4 linked regions of the Homo sapiens genome follow. The protein of the gene in region 4 interacts with the protein of the main gene of each other region in a biochemical or structural test. Each region holds a gene or a part of one and is shown on either strand. Other genes may lie near its edges.

Evidence for each region.
Region 1: the proteins of RAB8A (region 4) and SYTL4 form a complex in vitro, tested with the Homo sapiens proteins (2 studies listed by BioGRID).
Region 2: the proteins of RAB8A (region 4) and OCRL form a complex in vitro, tested with the Homo sapiens proteins (2 studies listed by BioGRID and IntAct, with this or other methods).
Region 3: of the proteins of RAB8A (region 4) and LRRK2, one has a biochemical effect on the other in vitro, tested with the Homo sapiens proteins (2 studies listed by IntAct).

The regions. Positions count from the first base shown.
Region 1 is NC_000023.11:100,720,894-100,729,121, forward strand, and holds part of SYTL4 (synaptotagmin-like protein 4), read right to left. Parts: intron 1-8,228. UniProt on the Homo sapiens protein: Modulates exocytosis of dense-core granules and secretion of hormones in the pancreas and the pituitary. Interacts with vesicles containing negatively charged phospholipids in a Ca(2+)-independent manner.
Region 2 is NC_000023.11:129,570,531-129,578,758, forward strand, and holds part of OCRL (inositol polyphosphate 5-phosphatase OCRL), read left to right. Parts: intron 1-4,609; coding exon 4,610-4,720; intron 4,721-5,366; coding exon 5,367-5,532; intron 5,533-5,786; coding exon 5,787-6,022; intron 6,023-8,228. UniProt on the Homo sapiens protein: Catalyzes the hydrolysis of the 5-position phosphate of phosphatidylinositol 4,5-bisphosphate (PtdIns(4,5)P2) and phosphatidylinositol-3,4,5-bisphosphate (PtdIns(3,4,5)P3), with the greatest catalytic activity towards PtdIns(4,5)P2.
Region 3 is NC_000012.12:40,304,488-40,312,715, reverse strand, and holds part of LRRK2 (leucine-rich repeat serine/threonine-protein kinase 2), read right to left. Parts: intron 6,932-8,228; coding exon 6,750-6,931; intron 4,250-6,749; coding exon 4,020-4,249; intron 3,611-4,019; coding exon 3,483-3,610; intron 2,286-3,482; coding exon 2,067-2,285; intron 1-2,066. UniProt on the Homo sapiens protein: Serine/threonine-protein kinase which phosphorylates a broad range of proteins involved in multiple processes such as neuronal plasticity, innate immunity, autophagy, and vesicle trafficking.
Region 4 is NC_000019.10:16,114,889-16,121,888, forward strand, and holds part of RAB8A (ras-related protein Rab-8A), read left to right. Parts: intron 1-3,337; coding exon 3,338-3,398; intron 3,399-6,861; coding exon 6,862-6,922; intron 6,923-6,950; exon of another isoform or gene 6,951-7,000. UniProt on the Homo sapiens protein: The small GTPases Rab are key regulators of intracellular membrane trafficking, from the formation of transport vesicles to their fusion with membranes.

The sequences.
Region 1 (8,228 bases), on a different chromosome or scaffold from region 4:
AAAGGTAGGTATAAATAATAAAATAAATTGGAGAATAATATAAAAATAAACATAAAATATTAACTTATTACAAGCCCTCTTTCCCTCCTAAACTGCTTAACCATAATTACTTTACACATTACATCAAATCCCTAGAGCAAGATTAGTACATGCATTATCAACATCTGGTCTACAGCTTGAAGCAATATCCTAATATTTTTAAAAAATACAGTATAAAAAATTAAAACCAATGAAATATTCAAATTAGATTTGTATATATTTGTTTATTTTCAATACTGACATAGTAAGTAAAAATACCTTAAAAAGTTCTAAGGGGAAAAGAGGTATGAGTTTTCATAATTCAGTAAGTATAACTTGAGATAAAGCAAGATACTCAAAATGCCTAGATGGACCTTCTTAGCCCCCATATATGTAAATATTTGATCCTGGTATTATCATTAGTTACAAATAAAGCTACACATACAGGAATCAGCACATCAATAAGGATGTTCTTTTAGTTTATAAAAATAATCTCCCCCACTAGATTGTAAGCTGTATGACAGAAGGGACTTTGTTTTGTTCATTTCTGTACCTTTGGTGCCTAGAGCACTGCCTGGATCATAATATGCACAAAATAAATATTTGTTGAATGAATGAGCTGGCATCAAGAATACCATATATCATATTCAGCCACACCCAAGAGCTTATCATCTAGGACTTCTCCACCTTTGATATCACTGATTCAACACCCCCTCTCTGACCACAACCTGCTGTGCTTCTAGCCTATTCAGCCAATGAGCCCCCCAACTAGCCCCATTCCTGTTCTCAGATTTCTTGGATGGGGGCAGTCTTCCATAGACCCTTCTGCTTTCACCTCCTCAGCTCCTTCCCATCTTTACTTCCTTCCCAATAACATTTAAATTTTATTGTTTCTTTCTCTTTTTTTTTTCTGAGACTTTTTCTCTATTGCTCTGGCTGGAGTGCAGTGGCATGATCTTGGCTCACTGCAACCACTGCCTCCTGGATTCAAGCGATTCTCCTGCCTCAGCCTCCCAAGTAGCTGGGATTACAGGTGTGCGCCACCATGCCCGGCTAATTTTTGTATTTTTAGTAGAGATGGGGTTTCACCATGTTGGCCAGACTGGTCTCGAGCTCCTAACCTCAGGTGATCCACCCGCCTCAGCCTCCCAAAGTGCTGGGATTACTGGTGTGAGCCACCGCACCCAGCCAATTCTATTGTTTCAACTGCACTCTTGTCAATATCCTCAATAATGCATAATTTCACTGCAAATATCTGATTTAAAAAACCATAGCTCTTCTAAGCCCAACTGTTATACTTTATGCATGCACAAGGACTCCTGAGATCTACTGGAGAAAAAAAAATCACACTCTGGTAGATTATTATCCATATGAATTCTTGGTCACCAAGCTCATCTTAACCCTGCCTGGCACTGCAACTATGCTTCCCTAGGCTGCTCTCCTGTTCTCCACAATAACTATTTCAAACCTTCTTCAAATACCACAAATATCTAACTCAAACCTTGTCCCATCTTAACCCCTGCTCTAAGAGGTTGGCCTTAACTATTATATCATAGAGAAATAGAAATACCATCAGACAAGTTCCTGCCGCCAAATCTATGAACCTACTTTCATCTATGCCTATTGAGGATAATCCTCTACCTCAATCTGGATCCCCTCCCATCTGGCATAAGGACTTTGCCTTCCAAGGATTTTGCTCTATTAATTAGTCCCTCCTTCCCACCAGCCTTTAAAGGAACTCAAGTCCTTCCTAAATAAATAAATAAATAAATAAATAACAGGTCCTCAATCTCAACTCCTTCCTTGCTACTACCCTTTCTCTGCTCTTCAAAGCCAGACAGATTTCTCTAAGGAATTGTACATAATCACTGCCTTCACTTCCTCATCTCTCCAATCATTTCTCAACCCACCATAGTTTAGCTTTCTGCCTCACAGTTCTCTGAAATTGCTCTAAGGTCACCAAGAACTTCCTAAATCCAATAGACAGTTCTTGGTCTTCCTAGATTTCTCTGGATCTTTAGTACCACTGACCATATTTTTAACATAGCCATTTCATTTTGAGAAACTTATTCTGCTGATATTCAAGTAAATTCACAAATATATATTCTGAGGATGCTCAATATTTGAAACAGCAAAAAAAAAAAAATTAAAGAACATAAACATCCATCAAAGGAAACTGACTAGTTATTGTACACACATATTAGGGAATATTGTGCCTTTGTTAAAAAGAAGAAGGTACGGTCTCCCTCTGATGCAGAGGTGAAGCTGGACTGTACTGCTGCCATCTCGGCTCACTGCAACCTCCCTGCCTGATTCTCCTGCCTCAGCCTGCCGAGTGCCTGCGATCGCAGGCGCGCGCCGCCACGCCTGACTGGTTTTCGTATTTTTTTGGTGGAGATGGGATTTCGCTGTGTTGGCCGGGCTGGTCTCCAGCTCCTAACCACGAGTGATCCGCCAGCCTTGGCTTCCCGAGGTGCTGGGATTGCAGACGGAGTGTCGTTCACTCAGTGCTCAATAGTGCCCAGGCTGGAGTGCAGTAGCGTGATCTCGGCTCACTACAACCTCCACCTCCCAGCCGCCTCCCTTGGCCTCCCAAAGTGCCGAGATTGCAGCCTCTGCCCGGCCGCCACCCCATCTGGGAAGTGAGGAGTGTCTCTGCCTGGCCGCCATCCCATCTAGGAAGTGAGGAGCGCCTCATCCCGGCCGCCATCCCATCTAGGCAGTGAGGAGCGTCTCTGCCCGGCCGCCCATCGTCTGAGATGTGGGGAGCGCCTCTGCCCTGCCGCCCCGTCTGGGATGTGAGGAGCGTCTCTGCCCGGCCGCCCCGTCTGAGAAGTGAGGAGCCCCTCCGCCCGGCAGCCGCACCGTCTGAGAAGTGAGGAGTCCCTCCGCCCGGCAGCCACCCCGTCTGGGAAGTGAGGAGCGTCTCCGCCTGGCAGCCACCCCGTCCGGGAGGGAGGTGGGGGTCAGCCCCCGCCAGGCCAGCCACCCTGTCCGGGAGGGAGGTGGGGGGTCAGCCCCCGCCAGGCCAGCCGCCCCGTCAGGGAGGGAGGTGGGGGGGTCAGCCCCCCGCCCGGCCAGCCGCCCCGTCCGGGAGGGAGGTGGGGGGGGTCAGCCCCCCGCCCAGCCAGCCGCCCCGTCCGGGAGGTGAGGGGCGCCTCTGCCCGGCCGCCCCTGCTGGGAAGTGAGGAGCCCCTCTGCCCGGCCAGCCGCCCCGTCCGGGAGGGAGGTGGGGGGGGTCAGCCCCCCACACGGCCAGCCGCCCCGTCCGGGAGGGAGGTGGGGGGGTCATCAGCTCCCCCGCCCGGCCAGCCGCCCCGTCCAGGAGGGAGGTGGGGGGGGTCAGCGCCCCGCCCGGCCAGCCGCCCCATCCGGGAGGTGAGGGGCGCCTCTGCCCGGCCGCCCCTACTGGGAAGTGAGGAGCCCCTCTGCCCGGCCACCACCCCGTCTGGGAGGTGTACCCAACAGCTCATTGAGAACGGGCCATGATGACAATGGCGGTTTTGTGGAATAGAAAGGGGGGAAAGGTGGGGAAAAGATTGAGAAATCGGATGGTTGCCATGTCTGTGTAGAAAGAGGTAGACATGGGAGACTTTTCATTTTGTGCTGTACTAAGAAAAATTCTTCTTCCTTGGGATCCTGTTGATCTGTGACCTTGCCCCCAACCCTGTGCTCTCTGAAACATGTGCTGTGTCCACTCAGGGTTGAATGGATTAAGGGTGGTGCAAGAGGTGCTTTGTTAAACAGATGCTTGAAGGCAGCATGCTCGTTAAGAGTCATCACCACTCCCTAATCTCAAGTACCCAGGGACACAAACACTGCGGAAGGCCGCAGGGTCCTCTGGCCTAGGAAAACCAGAGGCCTCTGTTCACTTGTTTATCTGCTGACCTTCCCTCCACTATTGTCCTGTGACCCTGCCAAATCCCCCTCTGCGAGAAACACCCAAGAATGATCAATAAAAAGAAAAAAGAAAAAAAAAAAAAGAAGAAGGTACTGTAGTTCTATATATACTGACACTGAAAGCATATTAAATTAAAAAAATTGCAAATCATATATATTATGATTCCATTTTTATTTGTTTACATTTTAGACAGATTGGATCATGGATGAATGGAAAAATGTCTAGAAAGAAATACAATCTTAACATTGTTACCTCTGGAGAGTGGGATAAGCAGGAACAGAAGATTTATATGTTACCTTTTATTGAGTCAAGTAATAAAAATGTAGTCCCATCCCTAAGCACAGCAACACTTCTAGGTAAGAAAAAAATTTCACAGGAGATCAAAAGGGAATGGCCGTAGAGACTAGGGGAAAATATTTTAAGGTCACCAGGGCTAAGAGAGAAAGGAGAGAAGTGTAGCTAATGGTTTCAAACATGGAATGAGAGATCTATTAAAAACAAGAAGAGGTAAGTATCCAATAGACAGAGAGCGTGAATAGATAATTCTTAAAGGGGAAAAATCACATGGCCAATACACATCAAAAAGAAAAAGTTTCACTCTTACTGGCAATAAAGATTTTTTTATGTTTGCTTATTAATTCAGCAAAATTTCAGAAAGACAATTTTCAGTTTTTAAAAAGGATTTAAGAGATATTCTCATATTTTGTTGGCAAATGTAAATTAGTAAGGCCTGTTAAAAAGCAATGTGACAATCTGATTTCTAAGAAAACTGAACTTCACAGAACTTATCACAATTGTAATTAAAAAATTATGTGATACAATATTTAATATACACTTCCCCTGCCGAAATAAGTTCCAGGAGAAAAATGGCCATTGTCTACCTTCTTCTCAGCCATACCTCAAGCATCTAGCTGGGTTGATGGATGGATAGATGGATAAATCTACATTGTAGGATCCTGACTGTAGGCTCTCAGTTGGTGCAACGTAAATCCTCAGTAAATCAACACAGAGCATGGCACAACATAGGCCCTCAGTAAATCAAATCACGCTTTCTGATGAGTTTAAAGACACTGATACTAATGGTATTCTGATGCCTGAATCGATAGAGCTACAAACAAGAAGCAGTGTAGATGCCATGGAAATTTTCTACTTCTTAAAAATTACTCAAGGTCAAGTTAGGTTTAGATAGTCACAGATATGAATATGAAAGCCACAGTGGTCCATCATTTCAACTATTCTTCTGCCAGGGCCATCCAATCTCCAGCCCTCTCCCTATTTCTGTCACGGCCACCCGGAAAAAATTCCCCATACTAGATTGTCCACACTCTGTTCCTGGTCTGATGAGTGCTGCCAGACAGAATGGATACAGGGTTCTGCGACTTGAGGCAGAGACAAATTCAAGTTACCCAAGCCATTTTAAAACTTTTTTCCAGTTTTATGGAGGTATACTTGACAAAAATTGTGTCTATTTATGGTGTACAGCATGATATTTTGAAATACACATACATAACCTGGATGATATGCCCCTAAAGAACTCCTCTTTTCGTCTCTCTCAAATGCTATTCCAACCCTTCACCATTCTTGCCTTCTTTACTCTCTGGTGAACCTTTCACTCTCTTGTTGGGGGCGGAGGGGCTCTCTCAAAATCCTGTCCCTCCACAGGTACTTCCTTCTCCATAGTTTTTACCAAGAGGATTGGTGAATCCTCTTGTTTCAATGGAAGAGCCACCACTTTTTCTCTAAGGCTAGTCTTTTCTCCTCTTTCACTCTGGCACTCCCACCCTCTGACTTTCTCGGGGACCTTGCATCATCAAGCTGTATGCCATCTGCACATAAATGGGCTCATCTATCTCTTATATTTAAAGTAAAACAAAATTAAATAAAACAGCCTTTTTATCCCCTGTGCCTTACTGTCTATAAGGAACACTCTCTCCTTCCCATCATAGCCAAGCTTCTTCAATGTATATACTACATGTTTTTAATTATATAAATTTATGGGGTACACATGCAATTTTGTTACATATGCAGTGGTTAAGTCAGAGACTTTAGGGTATCTATAACCTGAATAACATACATTGTACCCATTAAGAAATTTCTCATCATCTACCCTTCTCCCACCCCTCACCCTTCTGAGTCTCCATTGTCTATCATCCCACTCTCCATGTCCATGTGTATCTACCATATTTTTTATCAGTCCTTCTCAGTCCTCACTGCCCAACCCTCTACGATCTGCCTTCTCTCCTCCTGCTGCACTGATGTTGTCATTGGCCTCCTAATTGCCAAATCTAATGAACGTGTTTTTTAAATGTTTTATAGTGGGTTTTATCTGATTACGAGAGGGGTACACATCATGAACAAAGTTATGACATATGACAGACTAGAGAGAAAAAAACTTGCACTATATAATAGGCAATGGGTAAATATAACTAATAAATATAGTGTTCTTACAAACAAATCAAATATATAACCCAAAAGATAAATGTGCAAAGGATATAAAGGAGCAAGTCTTGGAAAAATACAAATAGCTAGCACAAATGAAAAGATGCTCAGCCACACTAGTGATCAGAGAAATGCCAAGTTAAATCAGTTAGATACTATTTTTCACCTATCAGATTGGAAAAAATTAAAAGCGTCATCCATCCTCAGCAAGGGCAGGAGGAAAACCACTCGCAATGGTGAAAGGGTAAACCCTCTTAGATGTCACTCTGGTGATGCCTATTTAAATTGTTTAATGTATATGTCCTTTGACCTAACAATTCTCCTATTAGAAAGCTATCCCACAAAAATACTTGTGTATATATATATCCTTGAGCATTATGCAAGAATGTTTGTGGCAGACGTGTGGTGGCTTGGACTAGGGTGACAGGCAGAGGAGATGGAGACGTGTGGCAGAACACATGATACAGTCTGAAGATCAGGTCAGCAGGACTCCCTCATGAATTAAATTGGGTGGAGAGCAGTGATAGAAAAAGAAGAATCAAGGGTGATCTTAGGTTCTTGGTTTGAGCAACTGAATGGATGATGGTGACATTTTACTGAGACAGGGAGTGCTGAGGGAAGAGGGTGGGAATACAAGGGCAATCGGGAGTGCCGTTTTGGCCACGTTACATTTGAGAGGTCTATCTGATAGGCAAGCAGAGATGTCAAATAGGTCATTGGATATATGAGGCTGCAGCTTAGAAGAAAGGCCTGGGTAACAAACATAAATTTGGGAGTGACAACAGTCTAGACAGATGTTCTTCAAAGCCATGCAGCTGGATGAGAGCCTCTGTGAAGATTTTAGATGGAGAAAAGTCCAGGGACTGAACCCCAGGTCACTGCAATGTTCAAAGGCTGGGGAGACAAATTTAGTAGAAAAAGAAGCTGGTCAGCTTTTTGTACAAATTTGAGTTTCAAATAAGTTAACATATATTAAATGATGAGAATCACATATTTACCACCTTTTGAAGGGCCCAACTCCTTCCAAGTCTGTCTTCTAAGAGATTCTGGCCTCTTCCTTTCTGAACATTTCAAAACACTTTTAAACAGAATAGCACTTTTTTCTTTTATGTTACACAGTGGTTTCTCCAGACTGCACAGTCATCCTGGTAGAAAACTAGTTAAGTACAACACAAATAGCACTCAGCTACGGCTTTTCCATAAAGTTCCATAATCCAATAACCACCTCATACCTAAAAGGCTATGGGTAACTTGAAACCAGAAGCCTAATTTGTGCCATCCGTTATTCTTTTGAGCTGTTCACTTCCCCATTGCACAGTAACTTTCTCCAGCCTCTTATTGATCTTGCGAGAAGCCTGAAAAGCCTCAAGACATCTGACAATCCACACCCCTTCCTCCCAGTGCAGTCCCCCTTCCTACCAACAAGAAGCACAACATTTTTACATTTCCACTTTTAAACTTTAGAGATTTCCACCCAGAGACTCATACTTTTAAAAAATAGAGAGGCCAGGAGCGGTGGCTCACGCCTGTAATCCCAGCACTTTGGGAGGCCGAGGAGGGCAGATCACGAGGTCAGAAGATCGAGACCATCCTGGCTAACACGGTGAAATCCCGTCTCTACTAAAAACACAAAAAGCTAGCCGGGCATGGTGGCGGGCGCCTGTAGTTCCAGCTACTCGGGAGGCTGAGGCAGGAGAATGGCATGAACCCAGGAGGCAGAGCTTGCAGTGAGCCAAGATCGCGCCACTGTACTCTAGCCTGGGCGACACAGCGAAACTCTGCCTCAAAAAAAAAAAAAAGTAAGAGAGAGGAAGTACTTCCAACTAGGTCAAAGTTGGCATCAGGAATGCAATCTCAAAGCAAAAATCAG
Region 2 (8,228 bases), on a different chromosome or scaffold from region 4:
AGACTTTGGGGCTTTTCATTTAAGATCAGAATTATTTATTGGTCTTAGAATAGATTTTAAATTTTATCAAGACAATCATGACTTTACTTTTGTCCATTTTGAAATTTTAAAATAATAATCATTAATAATAGTAACTGTTCCTCAGATAGCAGCTAGTGGCTGTGTGGCAGGGACTATGTGAGGCAATTTGCACACATCTCATTTACTCCTCACAACAACGCTTTGAGTTAAATACAGTTGATCCTTCAACAACATGGGTTTGAACTACACAGATCCACTTATATCCAGATATTTTCAACCAAATGCAGATGGAAAATACAGTATTCACAGGATGTGAAACCCACGTATAAGGAGGGCCAACTGTGGGACTTGAGTATGCGTGAATTTGATTATACACAGGCCATGCCAGAATCAATCCCCCACAGATCTCAAGGGACAACTGTATTTCCCATTTAACAGATGAGCAGATGGAGAACAGCAAGTTGAAATAACTTATTTAAGAGCATTCAACTAGGAGGAGAGCTGAGATTCCAATCTTAAGTTGGCTTAACTCCCAACTCTGTGCTCTTTCTACTACCCCACAATACCTCTATAATTCTATAGAACTTGATGAAATATACCTTTAGATAACTTCTTTTAGCCCATCTAATTTCTAGTTTGTACTTGCAGGCTGCCCCTTTTTCTTCATTTGAATTCTCTTAATCCATTTTGAGAGGGTATCTTTCCTCAAACACTAACCTCTTTGGTTAGATCAGGTATGCCTGGCTTTTTTGTTTACATTTCTTTTCAAAACCTTCAGATTTTTTTGTTTGTTTTTGTTTTTTGTTTTTTGGTTTTTTTTTTTTTTTTTTTGAGACAGAGTCTCGCTCTGTCACCCAGGTTGGAGTGCAGTGGCACGATCTTGGCTCACTGCAAGCTCCGCCTCCTGGGTTCACGCCATTCTCTTGCCTCAGCCTCCCGCCCAGCTAATTTTTTGTATTTTTAGTAGAGACGGGGTTTCACCATGTTAGCCAGGATGATCTCGATCTCCTGACCTTGTGGTCCACCCGCCTCAGCCTCCCAAAGTGCTGAGATTACAGGCATGAGCCACCGCTCGCAGCCAACCTTGGGATGTTTTTAATACTCCATACACATTAATGCAGAGCTTCTAGTGGGATATTTACATTTTTTTTCAGGCTTCCTGTGTATTTATGTATATCTTTAATAAAGATATGCCTTTTGAGTTTTTAATGATTTTTAAATTATACAGCAATGACAAGTGCTTTTAAAAAAATTAAAAGGAAATTTAAGCAGAATTGACAGATAAGGCAGAAGTTCTTCAATCCCTGTTCTGTCTCCTACTCCCAACTTTGCCTAAACCCCCATTCCCCAGCCAGGCCACTACCCTTAGGAGTTTATATCTTTCTAGACCAGTGCTGTCCAATAGAGCTTTCTGTGATGATGGAAATGTCCTGTATCTGTGCTGTCCAGTCCAGTGGCTTCTAGCAGCAGGGGGCTATTGAGTACTTGAAGTGTGGCTAGTGCAACTGAGAACTGAACTTCTAATTTAATTTAATTTAAAGTAATTTAAATTCAAATTCCCTATGTGGCTAGTCACTATTGTACTGGACAGTGCAGTTCTAGACCTTTGTATATGCTTTTTTGTTCACTCATAGACAAAATACTGATTTGTGTGTGTCTCTATATCATAAACGGTCTTATATGTATGTGTTGGTCTGCAACTTGATTTTTTTTTTTAACTCAGCAGTGTGTCTTGGAGAACCTCCCATCTTATTACATAAAGACCTAGCTCATTGTACTTTTTTTCAAATTCCTAATTTTGTCAGTAATTTCCTTTACTAAAATGGATGTGTCAGGTTGTGAAATTCTTTGGGGTTCCCCCCCTCCTCATTATCTTTGATTTGCCATTAAGTGCTGTGATCATGATAACCCGCTGAGAAAAAGTTTGATTTTATTGAGTAATCACCCCATGTTTTGGATTCTTGGGCATGCTATGATTAGAGGCTTTAAAAACCACACTATATTTTCACCACCATTGGCACCAATGACTGTTAACAAAGGAGCCAAGTGCACCGTGGCCAATTAATTTCAGAAGACTTTCTGTGGGCTGGCTGAGATAGAGCTAGGATAGGGTTCCAACCCTGCACTTGGTACTGTGATCTGTTGCATTGGTTCTCAGACTTCAGTGGATGTAAGAATTGCTTAGAGAGCTTTAAAAAAAGTGTGGATGCATGTGTCCTCACCCCTAGAGGCTGTGATTAGTAGACCCAGGCAGCTGTGCTTTTAAGACATACTCAAGTTGATTCTGTCACATATCTAGTATATTGGAAAGAGTCTTAAACTAGTCCAGATGTCACCTTTGGTATTCACTGTAGCAGTGAGCAAGTTTGTTGATTGTTTTGTATCTTAATGTTCTCAACTATCGGAACAAAAATATTCCTTGCTTTGGTAGCCTTCCAGGTTGTGAAAATAAAAAGACATGTGCAAAATACTTTTGGAAATTAAAAGTTGCAAAGTTTTGTAAAAGTATAAAATTCATCTTAAACTAATGCTATACTATGGACCCTGGTGATGGTAAAGTGATTGTTTGATCCTCGGTTCTCTAAGAGTTACAGTTCAAATATGTGAAAAACTTCCCCAGTCTGAGATACTTGACTCAGCTTTGATGTTCTTATTTTCAACATTTTAAAAAATTTTTATTTCACTTCAAGTTGTGGGATACAAGTGCAGAACGTATAGGCTTGTTACATAGGTATGTGTGCCATGTTGGTTTGCTGCACCTATCAACCCATCATCTAGGTTTTAAGCCCCACGTGCATTAGCTATTTAACCTTAATGCTCTCCTTCCCCTCGCCCCACTACCCCGAGTGGCCTGGTGTGTGTTGTTCCCCTCCCTGTGTCCATGTGTTCTCATTCTTCAACTCCCACCTATAAGTGAGAATATGCGGTGCTTGGTTTTCTGTTCCTGTGTTAGTTTGCTAAGGATGATGGCTTCCAGCTTCATCCATGTCCCTGCAAAGGACATGACTTTTTTTATTTTTTGAGGTGGAGTCTTGCTCTGTTGCCCAGGCTGGAGTGCAGTGGTGCAATCTTGGCTCACTTCAACCTCCGCCTCCCGGGCTCAAGGGATTCTCCTGCCTCAGCCTCCCAAGTGACTGGGATTACAGGCACCCACCACCATGCCTGGCTAATTTTTTTTTTGTACTTTTAGTAGAGACAGAGTTTCACCGTGTTGGCTGGGGTGGTTTCGAACTCCTGACCTCTAGTGATCCTCCTGCCTCGGCCTCCCGCAGTGCTAGGATTACAGGTGTGAGCCACTGTGCCCAGCCTGATCTCATTCCTTTTTATGGCTGTATAGTATTCCATGGTGTATATTTACCACATTTTCTTTATCAAGTCTTATTATTAATGGGCATTTGGGTTGGTTCCATGTCTTTGCTATTGTAAGTAGTGCTGCAGTAAACATATGTGTGCATGTGTCTTTATAGTAGAATGATTTATATTCTTTTGGGTATATACCCAGTAATGGGATTGCTGGGTCAAATGGTATTTCTGGTTCTAGATCCTTGAGGAATCGCCACACTGTCTTGCACAATGGTTGAACTAATTTACACTCCTACCAACAGTGTAAAAGCGTTCCTACTTCTCCACAGCCTCACCAGCATCTGTTTCCACATCTTTTTAGAACCTTTGCTGCATGTATCAATTTTTTTTGACATGAATTTTTGTGAAATTTCCTAGTCTAAAAAAGAAACCGATATCTCAAGTTAAAATCTGTTAGTTATGTTAATTTTGGCATTGGTTTGTATGAAGTTTTAATATTTAAAAAAACACAGCTATATCAGGAAGCTGAAAGTGCTGTGTCAGGTGGAAAATTTTTTTATCAGTGGAGATGTGTTTATACGTTGTCATGGTTTTACTCTAGTCTAGGACATTTTGTTTCAGCCATTTTCTAAAATGGCTGTAGGTTCCATTTATTAATATATCTCTGCTATTATGTAATCTGAGCAGTGATATTATACTTCTTGGTATTGTACATAGAATCTAATAGAGTTAAAAGCTTTTTAATAATATTTGCTGCCACCTCACCAAGTTATGATTGTTAGAAACAGTAATTGCTGTGTTTTGACACTGTCATTTTGTACAGTGCAAGCAATCATTTTTACCACAATTATCACATTTTTTCCACTACCAAATAACTTAACAATGAAGCAAGAAAATATTCTTCCCAAATATTTATTATTACCAAGCTTCTTAACGTAGGGGTTTAACTTTTACAGGACGTTAGCCAATTAATCTTACCTTTACCTTAAAGCGTGTGCTTCTATAATGCTTTGTTCAATTTATGTTTGCTTTAGTGACCTTAAAAATTGTTAGAGACTCTTGGAGGTATAAAAGTTGAGAACACATAAAACTAAAGCAAGGATCTGTTTTCTTTCAGGTGCAAGCTGTGGATGAAGCAAGATATAGAGAGTGTTTGAGGATGTTGTTTGCACCACAGTTTATTTTAAATAGTTACTGTAATGACCAGTTTTAAATTGTTAGATAATCTCCAAGGGAGATGAGCTAGAAGGATATAAGACTGAAAAGAGGATACATTTTCTTTCAGGTGAAGGTTGTGGATGAACGAAGGTACCGGAAAGTCTTTGAAGATAGTGTACGCATCATGGACAGAATGGAAAATGACTTCCTTCCTTCCTTAGAACTCAGCAGGAGGGAGGTGAGCAAAAATACATGATCTCCCTGTCTACTGCTCACTGTGGTTAGCACAGAAGAAACTGCTACTTAGAAAAGGCTACATAGCAACGTGGTTAAGCCCATGTCGCTGGAGTCAGACTGCCTCCATTCCAGTTGTAGCACGGCTGTTTAGTAGATGTATGACCTCAGGCAAGTATCTTACCCGCTCAGAGCCGCAGTTTCCTTTCCTGGATTAAGGGGTAGTTGTAAGGATTACATGAGTTAATACATGCAAAGCTCTCAGAACAGCACCCGGCACATAGTAAGCCCTCCGCTGTTAGATGCTCTTATTTAATATTTCAGAGTTGCTAGTTAATTTATATCTCAGAAACCAGGACTTGGTCACAGGATGAATACTCTGAACCAAGGTTGGGTTACCCTCTTAGGATCCTAGGAATGATCAGAGTAGCCTGGAGAAGTAGCAAGAGCCACCTAACTCCTTCTCTGCTGGTGTGAGTATAATAATACATGCAAGTGGATGTTGTGAAGTTGGTTCAGTTGGTGAATGTCTATGGCATTTGCACACCTGCTTAACAATTACCTTACTCCTCATATCCTCTATGGAATAATCCAACTGACTTACTTCCCCTACTAGTGATGCATGTTTGTGTCTGTCTGTTATTCCCCAGTTTGTGTTTGAAAATGTGAAGTTTCGGCAACTACAAAAGGAGAAGTTCCAGATCAGCAACAATGGACAGGTTCCCTGCCATTTTTCTTTCATCCCTAAACTTAATGACAGCCAGTACTGCAAGCCATGGCTTCGGGCTGAACCTTTTGAGGGCTACTTGGAGCCAAGTGAGTTTTCCCTTTACCATTGTCTCTGCTGGTGATGTCATGACTCCCATCCCCTTGGTTTAACTTTCTGTTTTCTAACCACATGTCTCTTACCTTTACTGTCATATTGGTGATACCTCTGGTGTGTGTCCTGTCTCTTCCCCCTCATTGCTTAATGATTTTTTTAGAGGACACTTTTCTGTTGGTTCTTATACTCTTTTTTGCTTTCCCACTGGAGGTTTTCCTATTACCATGTATCATCTCTTACATTTCAGATGAGACAGTGGACATTTCTCTTGATGTGTATGTCAGCAAAGACTCTGTAACCATCCTGAACTCGGGAGAAGATAAGATTGAAGATATTCTCGTCCTTCACCTGGATCGAGGCAAAGATTACTTCTTGACTATCAGTGGAAATTACCTCCCAAGTTGTTTTGGCACATCCTTAGAGGCTCTGTGCCGTATGAAAAGACCAATCCGAGAAGTTCCTGTTACCAAACTCATAGACTTGGTAAGAACTGTCCCAAGACATAAACCTCTTTTACATTTAATTTTCACAATACTTAAGTGACGTCCTCATTATCTTTGTGCTTTCTGTCTTCTTTTGGCCACGGGGGATGTCAAATGATAAAGAAGAATGTTACTTTAGCACTGTTTTGATTAGATTAAGCCTAAGGGGAAAGAGGGGGGACTAATCTGCAGTTGGCTCTTGTTGTGAGTACAATACATAATACTAAGCTCACCAAATAAGATTAAAGACTCCCCTCTCAAAGATATAATGCTTGTTTGTTAAGCTCTTCATACTCTCAAGTCACTTTTGTATAAATTAGCATGTACGTGAGGTATGCTAAGTGGGGCAGGCAGAATTATCCTCATTTGAGCATATGAGAAAACTGAGGCACAGAGACATTGACGTGCCCAGAGTCAAATACCATCAGTTAGTAACAAATCTAGCACCCAGATTTCCTGGCTCCCAGTTTAGTATTCCTCACTAATACCACATTATATCTAATCAGAGTAAAACTTTGCTATTTATGGAAGCATAGAACTATCCTGGAACCCTGGAGTACCTGAATCAGAATCCCTGGGGGTGCTTATTACAGGTACCCTCACTTCTGGCAATGGAATCAGAATCTCAGGATATGGAGCCTACAGATCTGCATTTTATCCGCATTCCAGATGCTTATAATGTACATTGAAATTTGATACTTACTTAATGTGATGTGCTTAAGAAAGAAAAGGAGGTTGATTTTCCCACCTCTCCCTCAAGCCAAGCTATAATATTAATGTTTTTATGAAGGAAGTACTTACTATCTTCAGTAACATAAGTTGATTTAGTAATAAAGTTCATTGTATTAAGAAATTTCCTTCTAAATGAAAATATTGTTGGATTGTATGCAGAATCTCTTTGGGCTACAAAAGTATATTCTTGGTTTTTTTACCAAAGAAAATTAGGTGAGGTGACAGCATACGTTATCCTTACCATTAGTATTCACATGGATCCTTTAGGCCTAGCCAGAGCGAGTGATTGTATCTAGCAGGGAGGTCTAGACCAGCAGGCAGGCTGCTGGCTTGTCTGAGTCCGATCTGTTCTGTTGCCATGGAATTGTTTTAGCTGTGACTCAGATAGCAGATTAAAACACTGAGTCCAGCCCCGGCATTCTTTCTTGGAATTATACTTATTTCCCCAGAGCCCTCATGACTGAGTATATTACCTCTGTTTGAGAGAGAACCATTTTCTTCAGAAATTCATATCCTACCGTTCTGCTGTTTTTCATGATAATTGTTTTTCTCCTAACATTATATTTCTGTCTTTTAGATTTTAGTATTTCACCTTTTAGAATACATTTTGGATGATGAAGTTGTTTTTCTTATTTCTCCTACCCCCTTTCCTTCATCTCAGACATTATTTCCCAGCTTTCTTTGTTTCAGCTTTTTATTATGAAAAATGTCAAATGTGCAGAAAAATGGAAAGAACAGTACAACACACCCCCACATGCCTTCTGTACATATATACACACAGATGTTTTTTGCTGTGTCATGTAAAATTTAGTGGTAATATGTCACTTCACCACTGAACACTTCAGCCTGCATCTCTTAACAAAAAGGGCACACTTAAGCACAATACCATTATTATGTATAAGAAAACTAACAGTAATCCATAGTATCATTTAACATTCGGTCCATATTCAGATTTCTTCAGTTGTCCCAAGAATTTCTGTTATACCTTTTTTTAAACCAAAATCCAATCTGGGTTCATATAGTATTTGGTGAGGTCTCTGAAGTCTCTATTGGAGTAGTACAGTTCCTACTTTCTTTAGTGACATTGACTTTTTTAAGAGTCCAGTACAAATGTCCAGTCAAGGGTCAACCATTTCCTAAATTTTTCTGGTTGTTTCCTTCTTGTTTTTTTTTTTTTTAAACTTATCCCATTTATACTCTCTCCTTCCACCTTCATGTAAACAGGAACCTACCCTTATTTTTAGTCAGAGTCAGTGAAGATATTAGAATATCTTTGCCATTAATATGAAAAACTGCAAAGCCATTAATATGAAAAACTTTGCAGTTTTTCATATTCTGGGATTGGCCAGAAGAGGCTCAACCCTCATAAAGTTTTTATTTTATGTAAAGTATACTATCAGGTAATTTTACCATGTTTGCCCATGAACAGAAAGGAACCAAAATCATTAGAGGAATGAATGGCTCTTTGGGAAGCC
Region 3 (8,228 bases), on a different chromosome or scaffold from region 4:
CTCTGCTAATGGGCTGGACAAGATTAAAAGGAGTATTGTCAGCATTGAACTCTGTTTTGTCCTGCTTCTCCTTTCAGCATGATTATCAGTTAACTGACAGGCTGAGCCAAAAAACAAAACTTAAAAGTGTCTGCACAGACACCTGTTAATAAGGTTGAGACAGAAAAAGATTAGAGAAGAGCTAAGATCAAAGGCAAATATGAAAAATAAATGAGAGGACAAAAAATGATCTCTAATAGATTAAAAGCTGCTCTTTGAATTCAGGTTGAAGCACCTCAGGGAAGAAAGAATTTTCAAGTTCTGGCAGGCTCACAGGCCCTGGGTCATCTGAAAGAGTCATTCTTCTACAAAGCAATCAAATGAGTTTTCAAACCATTATGCCAGAATGCTGCATCCATTAGCAATATATACTTTTCTTTCAATAATACTGGTATTTCTCAAAGCATTTGTTTTATTTCCTTGTAAAAAGTTGTCTTCAAAGGTGATTTATAAGTGCCAAAAGAAAAACTAGTCTGACTTATTGGTAATGATATCTATTAGACAAAAGCAGTATTAATACAGCTTAATGAACCATCTTATCTGTGACTTTGCATCAACTAAATTCAGGCCTTTTCAAAACAAACTCATCCTCCAACAAGTCTTTTTAAAGATATGATACATTCTCTGACAACAATGACAAAAAGGGAAACTCAAAATATTCTCAGTAACAACAAAGTTATTGAAGTATGGGTATAGTCTCAGAAAAAAAAAACACCTGGATTAAGAGATTAATTGGATGAATAAATTTTGTGTATTTGTTTTTCTTTAAGTCATATTAGTTTCTAATTACATGTCCAACAAGAGAATAGGAAAGTCTACAAATAAATAATATGTCATTTTTACATGACATTACCATCTATCATCAATAAAACCTTTTAATAACTGTAATAAATGTGTGTTGAAGGATACAAACATACAAATTCTCTCCCTGGGCACCGCAAAAGCCATCACTTTTACAAATGGCTCATTAGGTTTTGGAGTGAAGCACACATAATCTATATAAATGGAACAGAACTAAGCTAACTGGCCAGCATGGAGTTATAACCAAGGTGACTATATAATTTATCATCCAAATTGGAATGCTTTTGAGAATATAGTGGGACACTATTACATAATTATGCTGGGACTGCCCAGGCCAAATAGGACTCTATTTATCAGCCAGTATCTTGATCATTAGTGCTATTGAGCTAAGCCAAGACAGACTAAGTGAAATTCATCATTATGTTTGTCATATGGAACTATCAAGGGTATTTTTCAGTACAGTTTACACCACACTCCCTGTAGTACCCAGTGAAGATTTCTTTTTTCTGCCAAGTATTTAAAAAAAAAAGTGTTCTCTCTGATAACTGATTTATTTACATTTTATAAAAATTTGGCTTACGAGAAGATAACTTTAAACATTTAAAACATAATTCCTAAAATAAAAAGCCCATTTTGTATGAACTAAGTAATTAGTGAGACACTGCTGAAAACCAAGTTAGTGGTCTTCATGACTAAATAAAACAGCTGCCTCACAATACGGAGGGAAAAAAATTGGAATGGGAATCACAGTGACAAAATTCATGAATGAGTGGCACAAAAGATCAAGATGTCCATAAAACAGGAATTCCAAAAGAAAAGAGGAAATGGAAAAATAACAGTTAAAGAATAATAGAAGAAAGATGATCCCAAGACCTCAGTATTCACCTTTACCCTTGTGATTGAATCACCACTATAAGAAGTTGAATCAGAAAAGGCATCAAAAACATTTTCTCAGATTCTCTCTCAGAAACATTTTCTCAGTATCCCAGAAACGGTCTCTTAGTTTCTCTCAGGTTCCTCTAATTATTTTTTGTTCCCATTTCTATGAATTAGAAATGAAGTCTGGCATAAATAATTTTAAAATGGAAAGGACTTTAATAATGCTAACAGCAACAAGGAAAGAAAACCCACAATTTTAAGTGAGTTGCTCACTTCTCAAAATTTCTGACATTTCTAGGCAGTTGAGAATCAATAAATTACATTTCTCTACCAGCCTACCATGTTACCTTGAAATTAAGGCTCTCGTTTATGATGGTTTTCCGAAGTTTTGCCAAAGCATCAGATTCCTCGGTGGCATTCACAAAGTGGTAATCTCGTATGGCAGGGAACCCTCGCTTATTCAGGAGTTCCTTGGTGATTTTACTCATGCAGGCTTTGCGTTGCTTCTCATCAGAAACATCCAAATGTGTGCCAACGAGAATCACAGGGGAAGAAGAAGCGCGAGCCTGGAGGGAAAGACACAAAACCCTCTTGTGTTTGCTTTCAAACTGGGCCTGCTCACATTCCTGTTGATATTTGCTTTCCGTGACATTCACTTGAATGGAAAAGAGAAACTAGCAGACTTCAGAAGAAGAAAAGAACAACTGTCCTTTTTTCCTTAAACCTAAGAAAAAAATGTAACCTTACGACATTTTAAAAAGTCATTTTTGGCCTTTCTTAACCCAATTCTTCACCCTTTTAGGTGGCATATATAACGGTAGTGGTATAGTTTTCCTTTCCCATCTTCATGCCTTAAGATGAGTTATTCACTCCTAAATAAAATAAGCATTTCATAAACCCACAAATTATATCAAATTAACGTCATATAGTTTATATTTTCTCTTCCTTATCTGTGAATTTAATCTTCTAAATTCGTTTTAAAGTCAACCAATTTGGAGTCTACAATGAAAGAATAAAAGCCACTCAAGCAAATATGACTGCCACTGTACTATTTGCTCACGTTGGCTAGCTGTAAAAAAGTTAATAAAAGAAACATTAAAAAATACCCAAATTACAAAACAAGCATGTATGCAGCCAATTACATGGTTAAATGTCCTGACACAAGCTTTTTAAGGACTTTATGCACAGAAGAGTTCATTGCAGCATCATGCAAGCAGCAGTTTAGTCTCCATTCTAAAAAGCCATAGTGTTTGAAGGAATAGCTGACAACAAGACAACAAAGGAAAAGATAGAAAAGCAACAAAAGGGAGATTCCAGATGTAACAGCATAATAATCTGGGACCACTTAAAGGATACAATCTGAAGAATTTCACACTAAATGGCCCCTGAGTACAAAGTTGATGAGATATATATATATAGATTGCTTTTCTTTAATATAGCTTATTTTAAATTAGAAAAATTTAGATTTCATTTAAGAAATAATATAATTAAAAAACAGTTGAACATATATATTTTCAAGTTTTACAGCATAAAAGAGTTTCAGGTTACCAATAACATTCACCAACATGGAACATACAATTTTCATGTTATGACTTCATTACTCGGAAAGTTTCCCAATTCAAAATTTTAGTGCTTCTTTTAAGAAAGTATTTAAAGAGACTGAAGCAATTGTTTGCCCAAAATAAATTAACTTACACACACACACACACACGCACACAGACACATGAATTATTTTCTATTTTCAAATGATCAGAACAAATCACCTTTATATTGAAGAGCCAAGGCTTCATGGCATCAACTTCAGCCTGTCCCTTGCTGAGGTCATAGACAGCAAGGTACAATGCTCGCTGCGTCATAAAATGGGGATGAGTACTATAGAATTCCTCACGACCTAAATAAAGATTAGAGACAAATTTTTTTAATCTTTCAAACGACAGGCAAGAATCCTTTTTTAAAAAAAAATCTGGGAGAATAATACTATTTATTATTTAGCATACTAATAAGAGAAAAACAACAGACCATGTTTAGAGAACTATTCTGGGTTTTTACTAGGATTGACCACTTTTAGCATATTTGTCAGCAACCGATCAAAGTACCTAGCACCAAATTGTTCCTAACATATCCCTCCATGTTCTTCTCCATTCTGGAGGCAAGGGTAAAATTAGGAGAAATGAAGGGCTTTGGAATAATTCCATACAGTCTACCAGGTTTCTGGATATTAGAACAGAAAGCTCAGTTTTTGAATCCCTGTTCCAAACAAATGGTAAAAGTGAATTTTAAAATTCTATAGAAAGAAATACCTGCAAAATCCCACACATTTAGGACGAGATCTCTCTTTCTTTTGTCTCTTATTTGGATAGGCCAGTCTTTCACATCTATGCCAACTGTGGCACTTTGCATTCCAAGATCTGATTTCTTGGTTTTCATTAATTGCTGCAATAAGGTGGTTTTACCACTCCCAGTATTTCCCACAATCATAAGTTTCATTCGGTTATAAGGCACAGCCTTTTTTAATCGCTGTTGAAGAAACCTAGTATTTGAAAGATAAAAATAAAATAATAAACTGCTTAAAAGTATACTTGAGATTTAGGTGAGTTCTTTTACATGTCACACTATTCTAAAATATAGTATCCAGAAGAGTGCATATCTCATATAACTAATAATGTACATGTCTTTCAGAGTACTGTTAATGCATATATTTTGCTAGAGATTTTAGGGTAGTTGATAATGTTTGGTAAAATCACCAAAGAAAACATGTTACACTATCACCAGAAATAATCAAAAGGCCAAAATATGTTTGCAATACTAATTAGAATACGATATGCAATATATATATACCTCTATATATACACACATATACATACATGTATACATATTCTAATGTCTTTAAATAGTATGAAAAACCCTACAAATTATACGCCAGGTGCGGTGGCTCGCACCTGTAATCCCTGCATTTTGGGAGGCCGAGGTGGGCGGATCATGAGGTCAGGAGTTTGAGACCAGCCTGGCCAATATAGTGAAACCCCGTCTCTATTAAAAATCCAAAAAGTAGCCGGGAACAGTGGCAGGTGCCTGTAATTCCAGCTACTTGGGAGGTTGAGGCAGGAGAATCGCCTGAAGCCAAGAGGCAGAGGTTGCAGTGAGCCAAGATCAGGCCACTGCACTCCAGCCTGGGTGACAAGAGTGAAACTCAGTCTCAAAAAAAAAAAAAAAAAGAAAAGAAAAGAAAAGAAAAACCCTATAAATTATAAAGTTCAAAATTTCACAAAGTCCATATGACATAGAAACAAGGTAGAGATATATGTATACTGTTAAAGCTTGATAATAGGGTCATATTAGTTACATTATATATGTGTGTGTATATATTCATATATGGTATATATGATGTATAGCTATATATTCATGTATATCACATATGCATATAATAGTATATATGGATAGTGAGATCACATAACATCATAAATAAATATAAACTATTATACTATCAGCAGATGTTAGCTTTCATTCCTAATGATCTTAATGTAAAACCTGAATGAAATAGAAGTGTTTAGGTAGCTAAAAAACCACCTTTAAACTAATAGTAGAGTCAAAGTGTTATCAAAAATATAATGGATAGAGAAAGATATATTTTGAAATATGTTAAAATGTTGCCACAGTTTCAAATTAGAGAAAAAGACTAAATCATAAGTGAATTTTACATCAGAGTAGTGATCAATTCATTCCTGTAACTAATAAGAATCTGACCAACATTCCTGATGATATGACCAAAAAGCAACATTACCTTTCTTGATTTATTTCTTAAGAATGCACCACTATTTGAAAAAATGTCTTTCTTCAAAAAGCAAATGATGCCTACAATTTCTAATCTGCTCTAGGTCTTTCTGTCTTTTCTGAAAATGTTAAACATGTTTAAAAATATTTAGTTATATATTAAATTAAATATTAAATATTAAAAATATTTAGTTAGATAATACAGTATAATACACTGAAAGCTAGTTCTACTAAATGTTTAGTAAGAACTGAACCAATTTTTATATGACCATCTTTTCCAGTTTCAAGAGAGAAAAATAATTGGGTAGGATGAAGGGTAGCCACAATTAGCACAAAAGATAACAAACTCCTTTAAAATGAAATCAAGCTCAGGAGTTCAGAAAACAAAATCCTTCCTCATAAAAACAGATGAAGTTAAATATAAATTTAAGAGATTTTAGGCAGAAGAGAATGAGTAAGTATAAATCACTGGTAATTAAACAACTATTAATTGTATGCCAGGCACTGTGTTGGGTGCCAAGATTTGAATAGTGAGTGAACACAGCCATGGTCTCTGCCTTGGTGGATATTACAGTCAAGTTGAGAGGTGATGACAGAGCTGAGGTCTGCAACGTTAATACAGTAACTGTGGAAAAGGGAGCAAAGGATTTTATGAGAAAGTAATAAGACCGATGTGCTGAAAGGGAACAAAAAGGAGGATAAAATCCATTACCAAAGATATTTAAAGTGCTTAAAGTGTAAAGACCAGAAACAGTGATACTTGAGAAGTTTTGGTGCTTTCAAAACTGATCAAGGTGAGTAGATTACTCATCCTAATGGGCAAAATAGAAGTTAGTAATTTCACATGATGTCAGTAGCTATAATGCTTTAAGATGTAAGAGGCATATGTTAACTAGTTGCTATATGAAATACAGTGTGAGAAGTTATTATACTGTGCTGTATTTCTTTAGATTGTGTAATTGGTAACCAGAGACCAAATAGCAATACTTATTTTCTTTTAGAGTCTACTCCACTGAAAAGAAACAGAAGGAGGAGAAGCCGCTCTCAACATTAGTCTGGCTAAGAAGAATGAGAAATCTCTACAGTGGCACCACAGAAACACATTCATTAAATGAAAGGCAAATGACACACAGCATATTAATGCCAAATATTACTATTTATTTTTCCCTAAATAGTAACAATATATGTCCATCAAAGTCACAGAGAGTAGAAAATCTGAAATAAATTTAGTAAAACCAAATAGAAAAAAATTATCTAACCTTATGATGTCTTTGGCTTTACATCCTATATGTTTAAAATCAAAGTTAAGATGCAGTTCATCCAAAGGAAGATCCCATATTTTGCTTAATTTCCCCATTTCATTGGGAAAGGATCTTAGTTCCAAGTTGTAACTGACATCCAGAGATGTCAGATTTTCAAGACAGCCAATCTCAGGAGGAATCTTAATGGGAAAAAAAAGGGCAAAACCTGTTGGTGGGAAGGAAGAAATGTGCTCTGCCAAAAAACGTGATAAGAAACAAGAAAGGCTCACAGATTCCATCAGCAGCTTGCACAACCTTTCAACAGAGTTTTAAAACTTTCCAAAGGTTTGTCATAAGTTGTCAGTATGTGTTTAAAAACATAAAAACTTACATATAAAAACTTACTCCCAAACAATCTATGTCACTCATCTGTAATATTAAAAAACCCAATCTCCTTTGGTAACATACTTCATCTCTTCAAGACATTGAAAGTAAGGAAGTTCTTACCACAAAATGGATTTGGTTATCCATTATCTGTGACTTCATTCTGCTCCTTCAGTAAAGGCAAGAAGACCTAGTCACTACAAACCTGCATGCAATTTAGTGTTCTCAAAGTACAGCTACATGCTTATACTTTAGGTGGCATCCTAATTGGAGTAATTTCTTTTCTGTTCCAAATTTTTAAGCAATATATACTATATTTATAATAGAAAACACTCATTTGCTGGCAAAAAATCAGGTAGCAAAATATATGCACAGTTTTGCTGAACCTCACAGTGTCAGACACTTAATTCTTTTGGTTTTTGTAGGCAATACGCTAGAACTTGAAAAATAATATTTTCTGAGACAAACAAATTATCAATTTCAGATTTACAACAGAGAGAATGGAGCAAAACAAAAAAGGTTGATCCATTAGGGTGATAGCATGGTGGCGGAATGCAGAAATTTAAGAATGTACCAAGGAAAGCTGAAAAACAAGTAATACAGTATACAGGCCAGTAACAACTTGAGAAAAATGGTTTATTTAAGAGTCTGTTAACAGATTGGACAGAGATTTGGTGATACAATGACACACAGCATCACATTCATCTATAATTATGTATATATTCATATAATCCTTTAAAAGTATATCACAAAAGTAATTTTTTGAGGAAATTATGCTGTGTTACCATATCCATTTACCATAGGGTAGGCTTACAACTTGTTTAAAAAACAAAAAAAAATTGAATGGTATTGATATTTACAATGCTTATTTTGAATTTATAGTTATTAAATGACATCCACTACTATTCCATAGAACACTCTTTATGAGCTAGTACTATAAAGAATTTTTATCCTTATACTATCTTGTGTATTAGCAAAGCGTTCTAAGTTGTTTTGTCATAGTTAAGTAACAGTTAAGAATAATTTGAGTTAATCTATAATATGTTATATGATAACATCACACATAATTTGAAATGAATATTCTAATAATTTTTACTTTGTACAAATGTTGGG
Region 4 (7,000 bases):
GTCAGACCTCATAATTCTTAGGCCTCATAAAGTTTACACTTCCTAATTAAATTTGGCATGTTAATAAAACCCAGAGGAGTGTAGGGCGGAGTGCTGCTGTGGAGCTTGGCCAACCTAACAGTGCTCCTCGATTTTTTGTGTCCCTGTACACGTGTGACAGGAAATGGGGAATGTTTTAGGAAGCCCAGGCACACTGGGCTGTCTAGTCCTGAAGCAGTATCACCTTAATGCTTAAAGGTGATTCCATAAATTAGCCATACGTGGTGGCGCTTGCCTGTATTCCCAGCTACTCAGGAGGCTGAGGCAGGAGAATCGCTTGAATCCAGGAGGCAGAGGTTGCAGTGAGCCAAGATTGTGCCAGTGCACTCCAGCCTGGGCAACAGAGCAAAACTCTGTCTCCAAAAAAAAAAAGAAGCAATTCTATATTGGCTGAGTGTACCTCTGGGTTTTCTTTATAGACAAGGATTGAGTGGCTATTCATTTTCTGCCACTCAATCCTTAACATTTTGCCAAAAGTTACATTTCATCAAAGCCTATTCTCAGAAGCCCCATAGATCATTTGTGGTGTGAACTTGGCCCTGTAGCTCCCTGGAATGGGTTCTCACCAGCCTGGCTCGGCGCCACTGCCTCCTCAGGGGCCCATTGATTCCTCCAGTGAAAGGGTTGGCATTTGAGAAAGTGCTTTGTGAACCGCTCAACACCGCGTAGACCCTGTTGCGCTTTAATACTTTGATCCAGCCATATTTTGCCAGTGTCTTCTGTGGGCCAGGCAGCCATTTTGGCAAGAGGGCTGCAGAAAGGACACAGGTGAGTCAAGGTGCGTGCAGGACTGGGGTACCAGCTTCTAGCAAATGTGTATTCAACCCCTGTGTGTTCAGTCACTGGAGGTAATAGCAGTGGATGAGACTTGTCAGTTCCCTGCCCCAGGGAGCTTACGTTTGAGAGGGCGAAAGTCCAGTGCTGGGGCTGGATGGATGGAATTAGCATCCCCACCCTGGGTTCAGAGAGGCCCAGCCAGGCCTGGGCCTCAAGTCTTCCCCAGCAGGCACTTGAACAAACTCCTGGTGGCAAAGGCTGGGTCTGGCTGTTTCTCATCTACATGGGCCATTATGATCTGCAAGCATTATGCCCAGGTCCATGCAGCAGATACATACATGTATGTCAGTTATGTTAATAAATAGGTAAAGGGAGAACTGATGAGGATGGTCAGAAAGGTTCCCCTGAGGAGGGAACTTGAATGGGAACCTGAACAAAGGGATAGCCAGGTAGCTACAGAAGAAAGAACTTTCCAGGGCAGGGAAGAGCAAACATCAAAGCCCCGAGTCAGGAGCATGCTTGGAATGTTGAGGAAATCGCTGTGTGGATGGTGTGGCCAGAGAGAGCAGGTCATGAGCCAGAGTGCTGAGAGGTGACCAGGTTAGGCAGGACCTTGACACACATGAGCAGCTGTTTCCACTTTATTCGAGGGAAGTGGGGCAGGGAAGCCACTGAAAGAGGCTTTAAAAAAAAATAGCTTTATGAGATAGAATTCGCATACAGTTCACCCATTTGCAGTGTACAATTCAGTGGCTTTGGGTACATTCACAGAGTTCCACAACCATCACCACAGGCAATTTGGGAACATTTTTATTATGCCAAAAAGACACCAACCCAAGGCCAGGCACGCACGGTGGCACAGTGGCTCACGCCTGTAATCCCAGTACTTTGGGAGGCTGAGGTGGGCAGATCACGAGGTCAAGAGATCGAGAACAGCCTGGCCAACATGGTGAAACCCTGTCTCTACTAAAAATAGAAAAATTAGCTGGGCATGGTGGCGCGTGCCGGCAGTCCCAGCTACTTGGGAGGCTGTGGCAGGAGAATCACTTGAACCCGGGAGGCAGAGGTTGCAGTGAGCCAAGATTGCACCACTGCACTCCAGGCTAGCCAAGATCGCACCACTGCACTCCAGGCTAGCCAAGATCGCACCACTGCACTCCAGCCTGGTGACAGAGAAACTCCATCTCAAAAAAAAAAAAAAAAAGGATACCAACCCTTCCAGTTTCCCCATGTGCCCCCCCAGCCCCAGACAACTGCTAATCAGCTTTCTGTTTCTATGAATGAGCCTATGCTGGACATGTCTGTTAATGGAATCTCACACTAAGTGACCTTTAGTGTCTGGCTTCTCTCAGCATCCTGTCTTCAAGGTTCATCCACATTGTATAGCATGGATGAGTACTCCGTTCCTTTTTATGACTGGGTCATATTCTGTTGTATGGTTGGACCACATTTTGTTCATCCATTCATCTGTTGGTGGACATACTAGAAAGTTTGGAGCAGAGGGCCGGGTGCGGTGGCTGATGCCTATAATCCCAGCACTTTGGGAGGCTGAGGCAGGCAGATCATTTGAGGTCAGGAGTTTGAGACCAGCCTGGCCAACACGGTGAAACCCCATCTCTACTAAAAACTCAAAAATTGGCCGGGCATTGTGGCAGGCACCTGTGGTCCCAGCTACTCGGGAGGCTGAGGCAGGAGAATCACTTGAACCTGGGAGACAGAGGCTGCAGTGAGCCAAGATTGTGCCACTGCACTCCAGCCTGGGCGACAGAGCGAGACTCCATCTCAAAAAAAAAAAAAGAAAGTAAGTTTGGAGCAGAGGTTAGCTGTGTAACATGGTTAGGGTTATATTTTTGAAGGCTGGGGAGGGGACTGCGGGTGAACAGTGGGAGCCTGGGGAACATCAAGGTGGCTGCGAGGTCACCGTGGGGAAAGGGGATGAAAGCGGGAGGTGAGAGACAAGGAAGATGGGGTCAGGAAGGCTTGTTAGGAGGTGATCTTCAAGGGGGCCTTAAAGGAGGAGAAGTGTGCCTAGCTGACGGGCCAGTGGGACACAGACCACCCGCAGAAAATGAATAGCATGTACAAAAGCTGGGGGCAGGAGAGAACGTGACCATGTGCATTGACGCATGGTGGGGCCTAAGGCCCTGTGTGCCTGGGGGTTGGTCAGCTGCAGGGTGTTGGGGAGCAAGGGACTCAGGCCTGCAGAGGGCTCTGTTGAGACCCACTCCGTACAACTGCCTGGGGTGGGGAGGCGGGTTCAGCTGGCAGCAAGGGACAAGAGCAGGGCTTTGCCACCCGCGCCCCCTGGGTTTGCTCTGCACTGCTCCCATCAGCTCTTGGAGAGGGAAAATATCTCCAAGTGTTTCCAGATCTGGATATTCCGACATCCTGCATGCCCAGCACCAGGCAGGGTCTCCGTAAGCCACAACAGCTGTCACCTGCACAGGTTGGTGGCGCCCAGCTCAGACACAACTTGGGAAATGGGCTGACAGTGACGTGCCTTTTTTCTTTTTTCTTTCAGGAATTGACTTTAAAATTAGGACCATAGAGCTCGATGGCAAGAGAATTAAACTGCAGATATGGTAAGAGTCATTGTTCTCTGTCATTCTCTCCACCTGGCAATGGCTTCAAGCCAGAAGCCCTTGGCCTTCTCCCTCCACCGTCCCTGTGACCTTGGCCTCCATTTCTTGGTGCCCAGTCCTGGCACATGGGGCTTTCTCCAGAAGCTCCTGGAGGTTTATACCCAGCCCAGAGAGCTGTCCTCTGCTGGCTGCAGGGCACCAGGGCCTACAGCATCATAGGCACAAAGCTGCCCAGCCCTGGCTAGCTCAGTGTTCCACAGTGGGCACCATCTGGGTCTGGCCTTCAGAGTGGGCTGCTTCTGTTGAACGGGAAGAGAGCCCTCTCAGTGCCAGGTGCTGGTGACGCCTGCAGGGACTGTGAGATGCCCCAGCCGAGAGTTTCCTTTTGAGCCTCTCAACCCACTCAGAAGCATAAAGGTCCAACTTCACTTCCTCTTTTCTCCCCTGGGGCAGGCCTGGCCTCCCTTCCTAGCGTACAGACCGAAACCCCAAACCGAAATTAAGCGGAGGGCCGGGCCCCATGTTGAGACCTGTTTCCATTCCTGAGAACTAAGGGTGACTTCCCATGCACATACAATTAGGGAAGTGGGGAGACTCCAAGTCGCCATCGCTGGCCTGATTCTAGTTTGCTGAGACTGAGTTCAGGTGGCGGGTATAGTGGGGTCCTGCCCTGCACACATGCCACTCGCACAGAGTCACTGGCCCTGAGCAAAACAAAGAGAAGTCACATTTAAGAGCATGGTGCAATTTCCCTGTCACCCAAACCAGGCAAGTGCCTTTGAGTGGGAGCAGTGTGCCAGGAGATGGGCCACGAAGTCATCCTCCCTCAAGTCTCAAAGTTTGACCGGTCACCCCCACTTGCCAGTTTCAGGGAGCCCCACAGCTACCCTTGACTCCAGGTGCTATTCACCTCTTCTTTTTTTTTCTTCTTTTTTTGAGACGGAGTTTCGCTCTTGTCGCCTAGGCTGGAGTGCAATGGCGCGATCTTGTCTCACCGCAACCTCTGCCCCCCGGGTTCAAGTGATTCTCCTGCCTCAGCCTCCCAAGTAGCTGGTATTACAGGCATGCACCACCACGCCCAACTAATTTTGTATTTTTAGTAGAGACGGGGTTTCTCCATGTTGGTCAGGCTGGTCTCCAACTCCCGACCTCAGGTGACCCACCCACCTCGGCCTCCCAAAGTGCTGGGATTATAGGCGTGAGCCACCACGCCCGGCCCTACTGTTCACCTCTTAATCTGACTTTGGGAGTCGGGTAGGTTTAACTTGCAGTTCATCCTGCAGACATTGGTAGTAAGTCAAGCTCTGGCTGCCTTGTAAGTTCCAAGCCATGGAAGTTTCTCCACTTCCAGCACGTTGGTGCCATGTCACCCTTTGTTCCCAAGTCCAAAGTGACACTGCATCAGCAAGCAGAAGTTTCACTTTCCTCCTGCCTTCCTGCTTCTGCTCTTAGCAATCGTGGTGAGGTTAGTGACTCAAAACTCTTCTAAGGACTGTAGTTGAAAAAAAAATGACTGGTTTTTTTTTTTGTTTCTTTGTTTTTTTGAGACAGAGTTTTGCTCTTGTTGCCCAGGCTGGAGTGCAGTGGCACGATTTTGGCTCACTGCAACCTCCGCCTCCTGGGTTCAGGCAATTCTTCTGCCTCGGCCTCCCAAGTAGCTGGGATTACAGGTGCCTGCCACCACGCTCGGCTAATTTTGTATTTTTAGTAGAGACGGGGTTTCGCCATGTTGGCCAGGTTGGCTTCGAACCCCTGAATTCAGGTGATCCACCCGCCTCGGCCTCCCAAAGTGCTGGAATTACAGGCGTGAGCCACCGCACCTGGCAAAAATGACTGTTTTTAACCACTCATGTCTCCTGCTGCTGGTGTCAGAAAGTCAGCTTAGCTCCAAGCAAGGTGTTTCTGCACAATCCAGACGTATAGAGCCCTCCGGGTCCCAGCAGGGCCGTGGGAGGAACCCTGGGCTTGGAGACAAAAGACCTGAGTCTTGCCCTGGCTCTGTCACCAATCAGTTAGGTCACCTTTAATTTTTTTTTTTTTTTTTTTGACAAAGTCTCACTCTGTCACCCAGGCTGGAGTGCAGTGGCATGATCTCAGCTCACTGCAACCTCCACTTCCTTGGTTCAAGCAATTCTCGTGCTTCAGCTTCCCGAGTAGCTGGGATTACAGGCACCTGCCACCATGCCTGGCTAACTTTTGTATTTTTAGTAGACAGGGTTTCACCATGTTGGTCAGGCTGATCTCAAACTCCTGACCTCAGGTGATCTGCTGGCCTCAGCCTCCCAAAGTGCTGAGATTACGGGAGTGAGCCAACACGCCTGGCTTTTTTTTTTTTTTTTCCTGAGACAGAGTCTTACTCTGTCACCCATGCTGGAATATAGCGGCACGATCTCAGGTCACTGCAACCTCCACCTCCCAGGTTCAAGCGATTGTTGTGTCTCGGCCTCCTAAGTAGCTGGGACTACAGATCCACGCCATCATGCCCGCCTAATTTTTGTATTTTTAGTAGAGATGAGGTTTCATTGTGTTGGTCAGGCCGGTCTCGAACTCCTGGCCTCAGGTGATCCACCCGCCTCGGCCTCTTAAAGTGCTGGGATTACAGATGTAAGCCACTGCACCAGGCCAGTTAGGTTACCTTTTTTTTTTTTGAGACGGAGTCTTGCTCTGTCACCCAGGCTGGAGTACAGTGGTGCAATCTCGGCTCACTGCAGCCTCCACCTCCTGGGTTCCAGCAGTTCTCCTGCCTCAGCCTCCCAGGTAGCTGGGATTACAGGCACGTGCCACCATGCCTGGCTAATTTTTGTATTTTTTGTAGGGACGGGGTTTCACCAAGTTGGCCAGGCTGGTCTCAACCTCCTGACCTCAGGTGGTCCACCTGCCTCGGCCTCCCAAAGTGCTAGGATTACAGATGTGAGCCACTGCGCCCGGCCAGTTAGGTTACCTACCTTTAAACCAAACACTAAGTACCCTTCAAGCCAGGAGCTGGACTGGGCATGGGTATGTCTTACCCAGGCATCACCTCCCGGGCAATAGGCCCTGTGTTCCTTGTCATGCAGATGAGGAGGGACTTTCCCCATCATTCAAACCAAGATGGCAGGCCTGAAAGCTTTTCCTGAGTCCCAGCCACCCTCAACAGCAAGAGCTATGTTCCTGAGCCACATGACTGGCTCTTCTGTGAACCAGAAACTCCAGGGAGAATTCCCTGGAAGCAAAGGTGCAGAAGAGGAGAAGGCGCATGGGTCAGGGATCCCATCATGGCTCTGCCACATCAAATGACCCCTCCAGGCCACAGTGTCCTTCCCTGTAATAATAGGGAGATTAGAAGGTGCTGCCTTAGCAGAAGAAGGTATCACAGTGGCTGAACGGTGAGAAAGCCAGGCATCCCGGGTAGATGCTCCTTGTCTCCTACTGAGGACAGTTATTTTCCTTTAATGTTGCTAATATCCCTTCTCTTCATGTTTAGGGACACAGCCGGTCAGGAACGGTTTCGGACGATCACAACGGCCTACTACAGGGGTGCAATGGTAGGGACTTTTTGTTTGGTTGTTTTTATCTGCTTTTTAAGTCAACATGGGAGCGTCACTGTGCATTGGTTACCGAAG